2 separate regions of the Homo sapiens genome follow, and region 1 is linked to region 2. The links come from fine-mapping of genetic effects on gene expression. A gene starts in region 2. The other region holds a variant in brackets. All regions are shown on one strand. Distances are from middle to middle. Region 1 overlaps LINC01937 (long intergenic non-protein coding RNA 1937). Region 2 holds the start of LINC01940 (long intergenic non-protein coding RNA 1940).

Evidence for each region. PIP is the estimated chance that this variant, and not a neighbour inherited with it, causes the effect.
Region 1: its variant is fine-mapped to the expression of LINC01940 in fibroblasts (GTEx, PIP above 0.99).

Annotation. Positions count from the first base shown.
Region 1 is chr2:238,723,955-238,732,283 of GRCh38, forward strand. The region is part of intron 1 of LINC01937 (long intergenic non-protein coding RNA 1937); the gene reads left to right. Among named protein-coding and RNA genes, the nearest start is that of LINC01937, 8.1 kb to the left of the region's middle. RefSeq lists an enhancer at 6,510-7,009. The variant A/G (reference allele first, on the strand shown) is at 5,095.
Region 2 is chr2:238,921,447-238,929,775 of GRCh38, forward strand. LINC01940 (long intergenic non-protein coding RNA 1940) reads right to left here and starts at 4,823. Exons shown (of 10, transcript NR_034162.2): 1 at 4,793-4,823; 2 at 4,492-4,674; 3 at 3,412-4,241; 4 at 1,627-2,944; 5 at 550-892; 6 at 164-425; 7 at 1-30. RefSeq lists an enhancer at 2,845-3,014.

The sequences.
Region 1 (8,329 bases), 200 kb before region 2:
ACCACGAAAACGGTATGGAGGAAACCATCCCCATGATTCAATTATCTCCCACCAGGTCCCTCCCACAACATGTGGGAATTATGGAGCTACAATTAAAGATGAGATTTGGGTGGCAACACAGCCAAACCATATCATTCTGATGTTGTGTTCTTTAAGATTGCTTATGTTCAACAAGGAACACCAGGACTGAGCTGTGAGTGTCCAGCCTGCTGCCAATGTCAGAGGCTTTTTTTTCTCTTTCTTAGACTCCTTCTCAGATTGGTAGCTTGAAACGTGTTTCAAAGATAGAATGCCCCTTACTTAAAGCATCAGTGGACTATCTGCGAAAATGATCTTATATTTGTCATTTTAAAAATCTCATTAATTTTTTCACCCTTATTTTGTTAAGGATCTTTGCATTCATGTTAATGAAGGAAGTTGTTCTGTACTTTTCTTGTCATGTCTGTTTTTTGTTGTTGTTGCAGGATAATATTGACCTCATAAAATGAGTTGGAAAGTGTTCCTGTTTTTCTGTGTTCTGAAATAATTTGTGTAAGGGTGGTGGTATTTGCTCCTTGAATATTTGATATGTTTCTAGTGAAACGATTAAGGCTGCTGTTTTCTTAGAGGGAAAGTCCTTAGTTATGAGTTCAAACCGTTCAAAGAGATATAGGACTATTCAGACATTTTATTTCTAATAATAATTATCTAATAAAATACTTTAGTATATAGTACATATTAGTACTAAAACATATTTAGTACTAAGCTTTCAAAAGAAACCTGTTAATGAGGTTATATATCTTGATGCAAAAACTATGGTGATACTAAAGGGAAGTACAGGGGGAAAAAGAGATATGTTTAAGAATTAACAAAGCGTAGCCCTAAATAAATACTGGATGTCAGGGCTACAAGAGAAGAATGTCTAGGCTGCCTGCCGAATTTCTGGCTTCTGTAAGCGTGCTCTTGGAGGTGTAGGCAGGAAGAGCAGCAGGCTCAAGGGACAGAGACGCGGCTGTTGCACAGACTCATGGGATCTGAGATGCCTTTCTGGCATTCAGGTGGATAAACTCCATCAGCAAGAGTTCCATGGCAGCAGCTTGGAGGAGGACGGGGCGGGAGTCAGGTTAGGCATTTCCAGCAAAAAGAGGGCAGCTGGAGCCTGCGGTGTGAATGGATTCACTCAGGGGATGGTCAGAGAGTTCACTCAGAAAGGACCAGAGAGGATCAGGAGCCAGGGGAGACTTAGAGGTATATGTTTTGGTGGATTATGTGCTTTTTAAGGTAGGTGTGGCTAAGGGGCTGGGTAGGAAGGAGATTCAGAAGAGAGGATGATCATTGATTAAATAGGTTTTCAATGAGAGTTTTAGTAAATCCAAGGTTCTAAGGGTGAGTTTCTCCTTAGACAAGAGGACAGACACCTTGTCCTCAATGAGAAGGAAGGTAGGAGGACAGAGTAGGGAAAGGCTCCCCCATGGAGCTCTTGGGCGTCTCTGCGTAGGTGAGTCTCAGCCTCAGTCGGACCCATGTCTTGGCAGAACACTCTGTGATCCTTCCTGGGATTCAGCAAGCAGGGCAGTCTCGTAAGGGTCATCTGTAGGTCATTTTCCATCCACTTCCCTGTCCTATAGGAGGCTCCCTGTCTTGTGAGGGGCTGCCACAAGACACTGTCTTATCCACTTCCCTGGTTCCAGTGAGAAGTAAAACTTTCCACATGCCCCCCTTAGGGCATAGCTCCAGCTATAAAGGTGCTTGGTTGTATTTTAGAGTGAGATATCCCAATGGAGCAACCCACTCCTCATGTCTGTCATCTGGCTTCTCCAATTTGGTGTCATCCTAGGGATGTGGAAAGCTGACATTATGATGATGTTGCTTATGCCGTTAGTGTAAGTGATAAACAGTCTAAAACCATCTCCATATTGACCAGATCTATGTGGTCTGAATGTAGGTTTCATGTTGCAGCCTAATATCCAATGCGATGGTATTAGAAAGAGCAGCCTTGGGAGGTGATTGCCTCAGGAAGGTAGAACCCTCATGAGTGGCATTAGTGCCCTTATAAAACAGACCCCAGAGAGCTAGCTGGTCCCACCCACCCAGTAAGGACACAGCAAGATGGTGCTATCTGTGAGCCAGAAAGTGGGCCCTCACTAGACACCAAATCCATCTTGACTTTGGACTTCCCAGCCCCCAGAACTGTGAGAAATCAATTTTTGTTGTTTATAAATATTCAGTCTGTGGTATTTTATTATGGTAGCCTGCATGGTCTAAGGCGTGTGGCCACTCAATTTTGTGATGAAGTCAGTGGTGCTGCTGGGGATAGTGTAAGGCTTGACAGGAAGTGTGGGCAAGAGGGTGGGCAAGACGGTGCTCATTCTGTCTGAGAAGTAGGCAAGGTGTTCTAGGGCAGTGGTGAAGACAAAGTTCAGGAGATGGTGAATGTTTTGAAAGGAAAGTTTAATATGTTTTCAAATTATTTATTTGCTTTTTTTGAGAGTGGATCTCACTTTGCAACCCATGCTGGAGAGCAGTGGCACCATCATAGCTCATTGTAACCTGAAACTCCTGGGCTCAAGCCATCCTCCTGCCTCAGCCTTCTGAGTAGCTGGAACTACTGGTGCACACCAGCACTTCTGGCTACTTTTTTCTTTTCTTTTCTTTTTTTGTAGAGATGGGAGTCTCACTACATTGCACAGGCTGGTCTCAAATTCCTGGCCTCAAGTGATCCTCCCGCCTCAGCCTCCCAAAGTGCTAGGATTACAGGCATGAGCCACTATGCCTGGCCTAGAATGGGTAGTTTAGAACAGACCAGCATCTCTGCATGTGCCTGTGTCCTGTAGGAAAGACCCAAACTCTCTGGAGGTCTCGCTACCCAAGGAAACATGAGCCTGGCCGGCTTCTGGATGTGGGGAAGCCTTTCACAGAGAGCAGGGTTCCCCATTGCTGAATTAACCTCTTGTCCTGAAAGAAGTAATGGTCTCGTTCTGGGACATCTCATATCCCTCATGGTCCCAAATTGGGCCCTGTGCAGCACAGATAGAATTGAGGAGGAACCTCTCAGTCCAGAGGGACGAAACTTCACCTAGAAATGAAGCAATATCTTTCTCAGCAGCTGCTCACTGAAAAAGTAGGGTGCCTTGGCTAATGTGAAGGGTGGGGTCCCAGAGATGAGGCCTCCAGAGGTTCTGGCGGGAGAAACACGTGGGATTTTGTGGAGTACAGTTCAAGAGCCATAGGTCTGCTGCAAACCCGCACTATGACTGTCTCATGGAAGAGCAAACGAGGACACTGAGGCTCTGAGCAGTGAAGCAATATGCCCGGAAGCAGGCAGGCAGACAGTGGCAGGACCAATGCCGACAGCCGGTTTCTGAGTCTGGAATACCAAGTTTGTTGGGGAAATGTTCCAAATAGGTGTCAGGAGGGCACAGGGCCAGGGCCAGGTGAGATGTGTGCAGAGCAAGGTGGGAATGAGGGGTCCCTGAGGATAGCACTGGGGTTGAGGTGGAAGAAAAAGGGAACCCGTGCCAAGCTCTTCTTTCCTTAACAAATGTTTACCGAGTATCTCCTCCGTGTCGGTGTGACATTAGGTGCAAAGGACAAGGCAACGGGGACTGTTTCTGTCTGTGTGGCACATCGAGTCCTGTGGAGAGAGACTCCCAGCAAGGAGTAATGCTTTTGCATATAACAAGACTTACACGTGACTATAGATTCCACTTGCACCATGCTTTTCGTGGACTCATTTGTTCAGGGATGTGGATGTAATTGACATTCCATTTTACTAAGCACATCGTGTTATTCCATTCTCATGACAACACCCGGTTTATGGATGAGATATCTGGAGGTTGCATGGTTTTCGTAACTTGCTGAGGGTGTCACAGCTGGGAAAGACAAGAACCAGGGTTCCTACCCAGCTCTGTAGGAGTCAAAAACCCAGGCCCTTGGCACCTGCACAACACCTCTGCCTCATTTCTCAGTGAGCTCTTGTTTTGTCTGCTCTCTACCCTTGTGCCCCCACACGCTGTCATCTCCTGCCCTCCTTTGGAAGCATGAGGCTGGGGGTCACAGAGGGAAGCTGGCCCCTCTGGAATGGTCCAGGTCTGTTCAGTGGATGGGAGGGGCATTGGGCTGCAGAGCTCAGCCCAGGGGTGCACATCTGGGAGCCTGTCAACCACAGGGTCCGCCTGTAGACCCAGCAGAGAGCATCGTCACAGGAGCCAGCCTTGGCCCGGGACATTCAGTTAGAACAGCTCATTTATTTGGCAAATTCCACTCCCAAGTTGGAAGTCATGTTAGGATTTGCTCATGGGTGCAGGGTATTTCTGGAACATTGAGTGCAGATGAACAATGAAATTCCTCCCTGGAGGGCACCTAGGAGAACTTGCGGGCTTATTAAAATCGCAGCAGTGGGGAGATCACTTCACTTCACAAAAGCAAACAGCAAGGTCACTTAAAAATTGTTGCCTCTTTTCTCTCATTAAAAAAAAAAAGGAATGCTTGCTTGGAGCTAGGGCTATCTTGACTTTCAGCCTGCCAGGCAAAGGGATGCTCACGTCATGGACCATTATCTGATTGTAATCTACGAATTCAGAGAAGTTTCTGGGTAAAATCATAGTGGGAAAATCGAGTTTTTGGATCTGTGTCTTCAGAACGATGCAGTTATGTGGAGGAAGGCACTCCCGGGCCTGGGCCTGCCTTGCAGCGGTGAGTTACTAAAGCTGGAGAGTTCAAACTCTCCAGCTCCGTGCAGATGTAAGTTTTCAATTAGGTTGCCTGGGTCCAAGATTAGTCAGAAACACTGCAGTAAAACTTAATCCAATCATTCTGATTCTTCTCCAAACATGATTTATCTTATGATCATCAGTACTTCGATGAAAGGGGAAACGCCAGTTCACTTTTTTTTCCCTTTGCTGTGATTCATGTGTCCATTATCCCAGAATCTGAGTCCTGTTTCAGTTTGGCAATAGCTTCCTTTGGCATTCTATTTTTGTATGATCATTAGCATTCCTTTTTTCCTAAGCTTTCATAACATTCAAGTCAGCCTTTTATATCCTTCCCCAGAAGGGCTGGAGATCTTGTAAGCTCCCGCTGTAAGCAGGGCCTGCCTAACCTTAAATGTGAAAC[A/G]TGTTTTAGTGCTGAAGTCATTCCTCAAAAAGCAACGTGAACTTGGGAGGCTGTGCCTGGCAGAATTCAAAGTGCCCCGTGGAGAGACTGCGGGGAAGGACAAAGAAATTGGGACCTGCCTGAGGCCATGAGTCCAGACACAGGCATGAGCTCCTTTCCTGTGCTGTGGAAGCCAGTGGGACAGAGGGTGTTGTGCTGAGGAAGCAAGCCAGTAGGACAGAGGGTGTCACCCTGGTCTTAGGGCCAATCAGTCAGGCACAGAGCATGGAGTTCAAGTCCTGCCTCCGTTGCTAATTAGCCAGGAAATCTTGAGCAAGTGGTCCCACCTGCAGTGCCTCGGTTTCCTCATCTCTCACATGAGTCTTCCTCACGGGTGGTTTTGAGACTCAAATGTCATAATGAGCATGAAATGCTGAATATCTGACCAGGCAGGTTGGATACATTCGATGTCCCCTTAGTGAGCCCCTACTGTGTGCTAGTCCTGGAGGTGCAGGGATGGAAGGTGTGGTTCCTCCCTCCTGGGAGCTCCCAGTGTAACTCAGCAGTTACCAGTTGGAGCTGTTCTGCCCCTAGGAGACACTGGATATCGTCTAGAGACATTTCTGGCTGTTGTGATTTGATGTCAGGGAGCTGCTGCTGGCATCTAGTAGGTAGAGACCAGGGATACCGCTAAACACGCTATAATGCACAGGACAGCCCTGCCCCCAGAGCAAAGGATTATACAGGCCCAAGTGTCAACAGTGTCGAGATTGAGAAACCCCGGTCCAGCTGAAGAACTTCATGGGTGACCAGGCCGTTGAAATTCAATATGACGAGGGTCTTAGTAACAGGGTGAACTCAGGGGGCAGAGAGACCACCCCTTGTTTACTCTGTCTCAGTCATTGGGTCAGACTTAGTATGACACCCATGAGGCTCCCAGTCCCTGCCCATTTTTCAGGAGAGCTGAGGTGGTCCAAGCCCAGTTTAGCACACAAGAGGGCTCCTTCAACGACCCCCATACCACCATCTAAGAAAAATCTGCCAAAACGTGTGCAAAGTATGACAGCTGCTCTGTGCCAGGCACCATGCTAGCACTGCTCCTGCCCCTGCCCGGTCAATAACTAGTGCATGGCCAGCCTGGAGCTCCTGCCCCTGAAGCCTGAGCCTTGGCCATGATCCCAGGCAATGTCTCCATAAAGACGCCTTAGGACCTCGCGGCCTAGGCACTTTTCTTACCCCAAGTCTTCCAGAACCACGGATCAGGAAGAGGTACCCAGAGCCCTGGAAAGCTCCTGGGTTGCTGAGTTCTGGGAAGAATTCCTTCCCTCCTCAGTAGGGACCTCAGACAGAAGGAGCCGTGGACGGCCGCTCTGTTAGCTGAGGCTTAGCACAGCCTGCCCCTCCCTACATCGCTGCTGGGACCCAGCTTGCTGCAACACAGCGGTTCTCAGAGTGGGGTCCCCCAAAGGCAGTACCAGCGTCACCCGGGGACCTGTTAACTATGCAAAATCTGAGACCCTACGACCTACTGCATCAGAAACCCTGGGGATAGGGCCCAGAAGCCTGTGCTATGAAGAGCCTTGTAGGTGAGTCTGACGCGGGCTGGAGTGTGAGAACATGCCTGTGGAAGGCAAGCCCCTGTGGGTGGTCAGGTAAGTCCTTCCACTGCTGACAGTGCTGGGCTGAATGCAGCTGGGTTCCCTGGGAGCCCTCTCAGTACAGTCTCTCCCGCCTGCCTGGGAAATTCACCTTCAACTCCACGAAGCCTCAGCTCCCCTCTGCAAAAAGCACAGAATTGCTTTGAAGTTAAACCATGTGGCAATCATGATCATAAAATTCTTAGGTTGGTGCAAAAACTGCGATTACTTTTGCACCAATCTAATAAATTCAGCCCCCTTAGTAGAAGGCTCTAAGTTGAAGAAGTTTACTATAGTTCCTCTGTTTTGGTAAAAAGCAACATTGAATCAATGCAGGCAGCAAGCAGGAAACATTTAAAATGGACGCCAGTGAGTCAAGACATGGAGCGCTGAAAATGCTGGGACTGCATTGGAAATGTGCATAAAACTTAAAACAACAGAGATGAGAAAGATACATTCTATCTCCATCTGGCAAGTTAAAAAAAAAAAAAAAACCAGAATGCTGGTCGTGCTGTATCTTGAGTTTGGTGATAGTTACAGGAGTTTATTCATTTGTAAAAATTCATTGAGATGAATGAATGCATTTAAGATTACATATAAAGAATATAAATTGTCCAGGCACTGTGGCTCGTGCCTGTAATCCCAGCACTTTGAGAGGTTGAGGCTTGAGGATGACTTGAGCTCAGGAGTTCAAGAATAGCCTGGGCAACATAGCAAAGCCCTGTCTCTGCAAAAAATAAAAAATAAAAAAAAATTTACTGGGCATGGTGGTGCATGCCTGTAATCCCAGCTACTCAAGAGGCTGAGATGGGAGAATCCCTTGAGCACAGGAGGTTGAGGCTGCAGTGAGCCTTGATTGCACCACTGTGCTCCACCCTGGGCAACAGAGCAAGACTCTTTCTCACAAAGAATAATATAAATTATGCCTATATGTCTATAAACATTGAAAAAAATTCTGTATTTTACAGTTTGTATGTTACACTTTAAAGTATTTCAGGTTGACAAAAAAAAAACAGATAAATGAACTTTTGGTGAAAGAGCAAGGAGACTGAGACTTTCAGGAAGTGGTACAGGCACAATGCATGCTGGGAACGGAATGGGCAGGTGGAGAATGGCCTTAGGAAGCACTGTGCAGTCTGCACCACTAGTGATGAGCTTGTGAGTGTATGGTCAAGGCAGAACTAGGTATGGACTTGTAAAATCTATTGACAATTACAACTTAGCCCTGAATTTGAGAAAGCTGGAAGGAAGTCGTCTGGAGGACTTCTTGGGTGAAAAGGCGTGCAGTAACCAGACTTCCAGACTTTTATTTACAACTGGGCATTAAAGCCAACGCTTAGTCTCAGAAGGTTGTGGTGTGAATTAGAAGCCACCTGGGAGTTGAGCAAGACTGACTCAAACTCCAGTTCCAAGCCCTGGGACAATCTAATGCTGTTTCGGAAAGTCTATAACTTCCTCATAAAGTTTCTGGGTTTTTTCCCCTTTTTTTAAAACTTCTTACAAAATGAATACACATTTTTTTTAGAACAGTTTTAGATTTACAGAAATACTGACCACAGCCTTTTCAGACTGGCTTCTTTCACTTTGCAATATGCAATTAAGGTCCCTCCCTGTCTTCA
Region 2 (8,329 bases):
TGGGCCTCACCCAATCAGTTGAAGGCCTGACTAGAACAAAGAGATTGACCAGCCTTGAGCAAGAAGGAATTCCACCCCCAGACTGCCTTAGGCCTCGAACTGTGACATGAGCTCCTTCCCAGGTCTCCAGCCTGCCGGCCCACCCTGCAGAGTTTGAACTTGCCAGCGTCAGCCAGTTCCTTAAAATAGCTCTCTTCTGATGTGCACACCTTGAGTGGCTCTGCTCCTCTGGAGAACACGCACTAGTACAGTTAGTGTCTTCATGAAGATGTAAGTCCTGTATTAGAGGGGCCCCTGGAAGGGACAGGCAGGTGCTAAGCTCAAGGCACCCACAAGGGGACACGGTTGACGTCTATCCTGGGGCCTGGGAGGCACACAGGGGAGCCACAATCTGGGCTGGGACCAAGGGAAGGTGGCTTGGGGATCTGTAACCCACACAGAAAACAACCAGATAAGAATAAAAGCAAGCAATAAATGACGTGCAAGAAGAAAAAGACGAAGGCTCTTATAATAAGAAAAATACAAACACCCAATGATAAAAATATCCACCTCCTGAGACGGGTTTCAGCTCCCACCTGCCCTTGCCTGGGCCTCCGTCTTGATGATGCATGGGGGCTTACAGCACTCAGGAGGTGCCCAGACACGGGTGCAGTTGCTGCTGGCCGTGGAAAGGGTCGCCCGACCACCTCCCCGTCTCCACTTGTCTTCTTCCTCCATAAGCCATGGGGATCGGCTGGGTGTCTGGCAGAAGCCATCAGGTCTGTAATGGGCTGAAGTGTGTCCTCCTGGAATTCACACGTTGAAGTCCTGACCACCAGTGCTTTAGGCTTTATCCGCAAGAGGCTTTATCTGAAGGAGGCTTTATCTGGAGAGAGGGTCTCCACAGAGGTCACTGATTTAAATTGAGGTCATTAGAGAGGGCACTGATCCAATAGGGCCAATGTCCTCATAAAGAGGAGATGTGGTGACAGAGGCAGACACAATTAGAGGGAAGGGGAGGTGAAGGACATGGGCGGAGCCAGTGCCTGCACTCCCAGGAGAGAGGCCTGGGACAGAACCCCCCACACAGCCTGAGAAGGACCCAGCCCCGCCCACACTGTGATCTCAGGCTTCAGCCCCCACTGCCGGGACAAGATCCGTTTCTGTGGCCTGAGCCCCCGGCCCTCGGGGCCTCTTTGCAGCAGCTCCAAGACACGGACACAAAGCTGTCCCACTCCCTGGCCACGCCTGCTTTGAGAACCACATGAACAGTACAGAAAATGATACAGAGTGTGAGACCAGGGGTGCAAGGCACCGTGGGGCCTGTTTGACATCCCAAGATTGCAGACCCCTAAGGCAGAGTGACACTTCCTGTCACCTGTGCCTGGGTCAGACTTCCCTGGCTGGAGGGAGGACGGGAAGGTGCCAGCAATGAAGACAGTGGTGATGCCATGAGGCCAATGATGGCGATCATTTGATAACCAGACAGAAATGTTGTTTCCCATCCTCCCTGCTGGCACTCAGCATAGAGTAAAATCACGCACAGGTACAGAGGAGGGCAGCCCCAGACAGCCACCTCCTCCTGCCACCTGCTTCCCTCCCCACCTGCAGGCAGGAGAAGTGGGGGGCAAGGCCACACACACTCACTTTTGAGCACATCCTCTGTGGAGACTTGGAGCTAGAGAGACAAGAGGGTCCTTGGCTAATGGCAGATGACACCTTAGAGAGGGGCCGTCTTCCAGGGATGCTGTGTCCAGCCCAGGCCACTGTCTGATTGGTGATGTCCCTCTAAAAAGCATAATGTGGCTGGGCACGATGATGCACATCTGTAATCCCAACACTTTGGGAGGCCGAGGAGAGCAGGTGGCTTGAGTTCGGGAGTTTGAGACCAGCCTGGGCAACAGGGCAAAACCCCATTTCTACAAACACACACACACATACACACATTAGCCAAGTGTGGTGGTGCATGCCTGTAGTCCCAGCTACTCAGGAGGCTGAGGTGAGAGGATTGCTCAAGCCTGGGAGGTCGAGGCTGCAGTGAGCTGAGATGGTGCCATTGCACTCCAGCCTGGGTGACAGAGCAAGACCCTGTCTCAAAAATAGGCACAAATATTTTAAGTTGAGCTTCAACTTCAAAATGCTCTCTTAGGGGTAGAATGCCATCACCTCCCCACCCAACCCCCGCCACCTGCAGACTCCCAACTTCACAAGTCTTCTGGGAAGTTCTCTGCTGTTTGGGAGTTTTCAGTGGCAGATGAAATTAGCAATTTGACCCCCTCCCACTGTATCTTAACGCAGCTCTGAAGGACCTCTACCCTTTCTGAGTGACTCCCTGGGCCCGTCAGCTCATCTAAATATACTAAACTCAGGGCTTCAAAATCAAGGCTAAATTTCAGAGGGCAAAATGTCTGATTGCAGGGCCATGGCAACTCACTGATCCCCAACATGCTGTGTTTAATGCAATCTGGGGGGCGGTGGATAGAGGGGCCCCTGCTTTAATTTTGAGTCTGCTACCTCCAGGCCCAACATGTCTTCAGGTATTTTTACTCTCAAAAATGTTTCCAATTGGAATGCAGTAAATTAGGACCATCTCCTTCGGCAAAAATGAGATCGAAAGGCATTTAGGAATCACTTTCAAAATCCCAAGATCTGAGGAGGAAGAAGGAGTTGAGACTTTCAAGGTTGAAATCCCAGCCATTCTAGAAGCGTGTGCTGTGCAAAGCATGCCTCTGATGTCGCCCCTGCCCTTCCTCGAGCGAGAGCTGCACGTGTGGACACTGATTCTTCTCTGCCAGAGCAGCTCCAGGGATGCCCTGGAGCCTTCCGAGTTTGCTGGGAAGGAGGTGGAGTGTCGGCGTCCCCAGCCCTCTCTCTGAACTGGGTGCTGGATGTAGCTTGCTTCCTGTTTCATGGTCTCGGTCCTGTTCTGGGGTCCTGATCCTGTTCCGTGATCCCGGTCTTCTACCTAAAACGTTTTATGCTAAAAGCTTTCCAGGCATAGATCCGTAGAAATTGAGGCTCACAACAGTGCCCCAGGCGGACTTGGGCCAGGACACTCTTTCAGAGAGGGTTTTTGGCTGTCTAACCCATTAATAGGTAAAAAAGGAAAAAAAAGGAGAGAAGTAGGTATTTAGGAGAAGGGGTAGGGCTTAGCACCCAGCATCACCCCCACTGTTTCAGCCGCCTCCCCTTGAAGGGTTCAGTTCCAAATGGCAGTTTTACTGCAGAGAAAACAAGCTTGGGAAGGGAGTGTGGACTTGACCTCGGTCACACAGCAAGATAACAGCAGAAACCAGGAAAGATCCATGGTCATCCAAAGCCAGGTCCCTGCTCCAAGGGAAGAACCAAGGAGAACCCAGAGCCTGCCTAAGACGGGAGGCCCAGGAAATCACAGCCCTTTGCAAACCCCCAATGCCTGCTATTCAAACACACCTTCTGGCCTCTCCATCATGCCCGACCTGGGACAAGAGAATCGGCTCATCCCAGAAGGATACTTGGCATAGCCATGCACCCCTGTCCTGCCTCTGCGACAGCAGCCGCTGCAAGCATAGATGGGAACCAGTTTGGTAGCTCCTCGCTGGCTCTAGGTGCCTGCAGCGTTGCACACGGTTGGCAAAGGGTCGGAGCCAGCTGCCTTTCCCTTGCTTCCTGCCGTTTTGGCATTGGCAGCTGTCCACGTGCTTTGTCCGGGTGTTTGGGTCTTTTCCCAGCATCACTGTGGAGCCTACAGAATCCACTGGGACAGGCTGCAGGTGGGACCCAGAGAGCGAGAGGCAGACGGCCTTTGCATAGCCACCCTGGGAGAAGTAGATGGAGAACTCTGTACAGAGCCTGTGCCTGGGCTCCTGCTCTCGGGGCAGGAGGACCAGCCGACCTGTGGAGAGGGGAGTTGTCTTTGCTTCCATCTGGGCCATGACAGCCAAGGCCAGGAAGGTGTCCGCGCCTGGGACCTGAGAGCCTCGGGGTGTTTGGCCCTTGGGGTTTGCATTCCAGGGCTTACAGCGAGGAGCCAGGGAGCTGAGATTCAAACCCAGCCAGTGCTGGTGAGGAGCGGCATGGAGGGGAGTCGAGGCGAGCTCTGCATGCTGACTCCAGAGCAAAGCCTTCCCTTTGAGCGCGGCTGAAACATTTGCTGCACTCCAAGCCATGGAGCAGTTGGGGCTGAGAGAAACGGGGACAGTTTGGGCTCTGTTTTTGCTGAATGTTGTCTCTCCTTCGGTTGTCTCACAGCTGAGGTTCACAGCACGTGTCATGCTGTGTTCCTGGAAGAAGCAGAAAGCCACTGTTGGAAACGTAATTTGGGTCTCAGTTTCCTCAGCTATAAAATAGGGATTAGAAACCTCAATTCTACCTTTCTTGTGGGTCTTTGTGACAACGAGTAAGATAATCTACATGAAAACATTTTGTATGGGATCTGATGATTGATTTTGAATAAAATAATCAGATAATGTGCAACATGCTTTGACACAGGTTCTTGCGCCTCTACTTCCCAGGCCCCTCAGTGGCGCCCACCTTTGTTGTAGCCCGGCGTGCGGGGGAACCGCCCAGCAAACCTTCGCAGAGCCTCCTGGGACCCGAGTGTCAGCTGAGGCTGGGACCTGTGGAGGACGGGGCCTTCCATGTAGAAGAAAGTCTGAAGGAGGAAGGGAAATGGCACCATGCTCCTCCCAGGTACACAGAAGACGCTTTGCGGAGCTGAACGTGCAGTGAATAACATAATCAATGAATTCCACAGTCAATGAGCAAAATACTCTACACAAACCTTATTTGCACTATGCACGTAAGGCACAATCTGCCTGTCCTCACCACGTACTTCACTCAGCTTCGGGGTGACAGCTTGGAATGAACAGATGACATCACACCGCTGCCCTGGTAACACAATGCTGAGGGCTTCTTTTGTGTTTGTTTTTAGCCATTTGATTAATTGTGAGGCGTCAGGACTAGTGCGTATAGGATGAGCCTGGGCCCACCCTCCTCAGGAGCTGGGCCAGACGGCCCTCCCCGACATCTCCCAAGGACCTGACCACTGTACCCTGAACTTTTCCCCTTCACACATACCTATTCCCACCCATTCAGTAAAGACATTCAAGGAAAATGTTTTCTCTGCACATACCCCAACTCCCAAATGTTCTTTCATTTCTGTTTCAAAACAGTGAGCATGCTGTTAACAGAAGCTTAGCTAAGCCACTGCACTCCATCCTCAGGTCTCCAGTGAGGGAAAGTCAGGTTTCAGGTGCGGAAGAGAAAGGGCACACATAGTCTCCCCTGCCTCCCAGACCCTCAGGAGCCCCCACCTTCCTGTGGCCCCTTGTTTGGGGAACAGCCCAGCTAACCTTCCCAGAGCCTCCTAGGAGCCAGGTGAGGCTGAGGCGGGGACTCACAGAAGACAAGGCCCTCCACGCGGATGAAAGCCTGAACCAGGAGTGGGATGGCAGAGTGCTCCTTGCAGGTGCTCAGAAGGGGCTTTCACAGAGGAACGTCTGTTTCTCGGGCTTTCCGGGAGCGGGGTCCAGCTAAGCTCAAGGCCAAGGAACTTCACAGAACAAAACTGCCCCCATCCTGCCCTCAGGAAGGATCAAGGCCTTATGCCGGGGGCCACAGTGTGGGGCGTCTCAGCCCTGGCTGGATTTGGGGGAGGTGACAGGGGCCGTGAAAGGACAGCCACATGTCCTGTCGTTTCCCAGGCTCTGCATGGCTGGGCGTGCAGGGTGGCCAGAGGCTGCCACCTTGCGTAGGTAGGAGCCAGGGGCGGGGCACAGAGGAGGGTGAGACTGCTTGAGGTGGGAAATGGGGGAGCAGGTGATCACCAAGAGGGGACGTGAAGAGGAGGGGGAGCAGACCAGTCTGGCTGTGGCGGGGGGAGGCGATGGCGCCAGCCTCCGTGAGCCACCAGGCAGGTGAGGCCTCTAGGTGAAGTGTTCAGGAGGCATTTGGAGGTTTGGATGTGGCCTTGAATGGATGTCCTGTGGGAAGGGAGGTGCATTTGGGGAGCCGGGGCAAGGTTTCCAGGCAGGTACTCTGGAGCAAGGGCTGCAGTGGCACGGCCGCCTAGGCAGCAGGATGCTGGAGCAGAGGGAGACACAGAGTGGCCTGGGAGAATCGCTGCATGAACCCAACATGGAGGGCGGGAGCAGGTGGCCTGAGTTGAGATGCAGGCAGCACCTGGCAGGTGTGGTCAGTGGTGAAGGAGTGTGGAGCCCCAGGCTCTGTGTGGGGTGCAGGATTGGGAGCAGCTGCAGGGGAGGGGAGGAGACAGATGCAGAGCTCTGTAACCCCAAGGAGAGCAGAGGGGTCTCTGCAAAGTCCAGAGGGTACAGGGGAGATGGGGGCCATGGGGGACAGCTGGTGGCCTGGAAGCAGGAGCGTGTGGGATGACCTCTCGTGCTGGCAGAGCTGGTGGATGGGGTGCAGCAGGAGGCTAAGTTGCACAAGGTAGGAAGCCTGGCAGGAGGGCCCATCTCTGGTGGGGGGTCTACAGGCCCGCGGGGCTGGAAGCAACAGGTTTCCCAGTTGTGCTGCCAAGTTCCCACTCAGGAACGTCTGAGTAGAACGTTCTCCACACCACAGAGGGGCACCGCTAGCTGGACACATGCCTCCTCCTGGGGTCCCAAGGTGTTTAAAGCCTCACGTTTCTAAGGGAGTCCTGCAGCAAGTGCTTCATGGACAGTGCACAGAGCTGTCCAATGCAGTCTCCATGGCCCCCATCACCTGGGAAGGCCTTCAGGGGAGGTGAGAATAGCTCTGGGTTGGGGAAGAAACAAGAAGGGGGCTCAGCCAGCATGAACCCTGGGACTCTAGCTGGGACCAGCTGCCTTTCTTCAGGGAGGCCTTCTGCAGAGCTGCCAGGGCAGCATGAGGAGCCCCTGGGAATGTGGAGGGAGCAGGGCACCCAAGGGCTCTCGGTCCCTGCTGCATCACTGAGCGGCTGGATCAAACTTCTCCTGAAGGTCTCCGAACCCGTGGCCTCTCCACCGAGGTGAGTGCATGGTCCTTATTACTTACCTCCATTTGGGCTGGATCTCCTGTCTGTTTACAACACAAAAAGTTCCAACGGACAGGGTGCTCAAAACTGCCACCAAAAATAGAGATCACATCACTGTTGCTAAAAACAGTCGTGTGTGCAGAATTTCAGGAGGGAGAACAAGGAAGCCTTTCTTGATATATTGGCATCCCAACAAACTACATCCAAACAGTAGCATTTCCAATGACACCAAAGAAAACAGGAACTGCTGCCAGGCTTGCCATCCTGGGAGTCCCAGGGAACGTGGCGACCGAGGGCTCACCTTGACCCCTGCCAGGTGTGGGCGGCCTCTGCACAGCCCATTCTCACTGCTGGAAATAGAGCAAATGAAGAGTTTTCTGATTTGACAAAACACAGCACAAAAAAACAACAACAGAAACAACAGCAAATAGCCCGAGTTTTCCTCCACGTCCCCATCTGTAAGGAAGCGACTGTAGAAACCAAACAGAACCAGCAGGGCCATTGGGGAAAGTAATGGGCTGATAAACGAGCAGAAAGGACCACCCAGGTGTTAGCTGTCATGCCGGGGGGCTATGTGGGTGCTCCAGGTTTTCAATGTCCAGAGATGAGAAGTTCCAGAAAGGTACTGGAAGCCGAGCCCAGCCCCCGCTCCTCAAGCTGGAGAGTCCTGGCCTACATTCTGCACGTCAGCGTGGCTGGACTGGCAGGTGTGAGGGCGCTCATTTCTGATGGACACGCCGGAGATAAGGCCCTTGAGACCTGTGCCCATGCCCTTCTTGTTCCGTGGGTGCCATTGCCACCACAATGCCCTCAACAGAACCCTAAACAAGGTGCGCCCAATGAGCAGCGTGCGGAAGCCCTGGAGGAGGTGCTGGTCTAGAACCCGGATCCCCACACCCTCACATCAGAGCAGAGTGCTCAAGCTTCCCACAAGGGTGGGGTAGGTCTTTATTCAGCACACAGCAGAGTGTTTTTTCTCATCTGTGTTTTTTTCTTTGGAAACAGACTTTCCACACAGGATGTGACTTCTTTACTTCTTAGTCTTGCTTCTTTAAAACTTGTTACTTCTTTAGTTTTGTTCGGATTTTGAAAACACATCGTTTTGATGCCAAGATTAACAAATGTGGCTCTTTATCATGTTGGAATTGACCCAACAATTCACAGATTTAAAAAAAAATAAGACAAGGCGAATCACGTTGGAAAAAGTTGCACATTCTTTTCGTCACATGGTCCTGCTGACCCCACAGGCCCAGTTCCTCCCACTGCCCATTCTTGGGAGTTGTAAGAATGAATAAAAAACAAAACCAAAGCTCCCTGCCTTCATTTTTATGTCCTTTGTGCTGACAGTGTCTTCCTGCCACAGCCCTT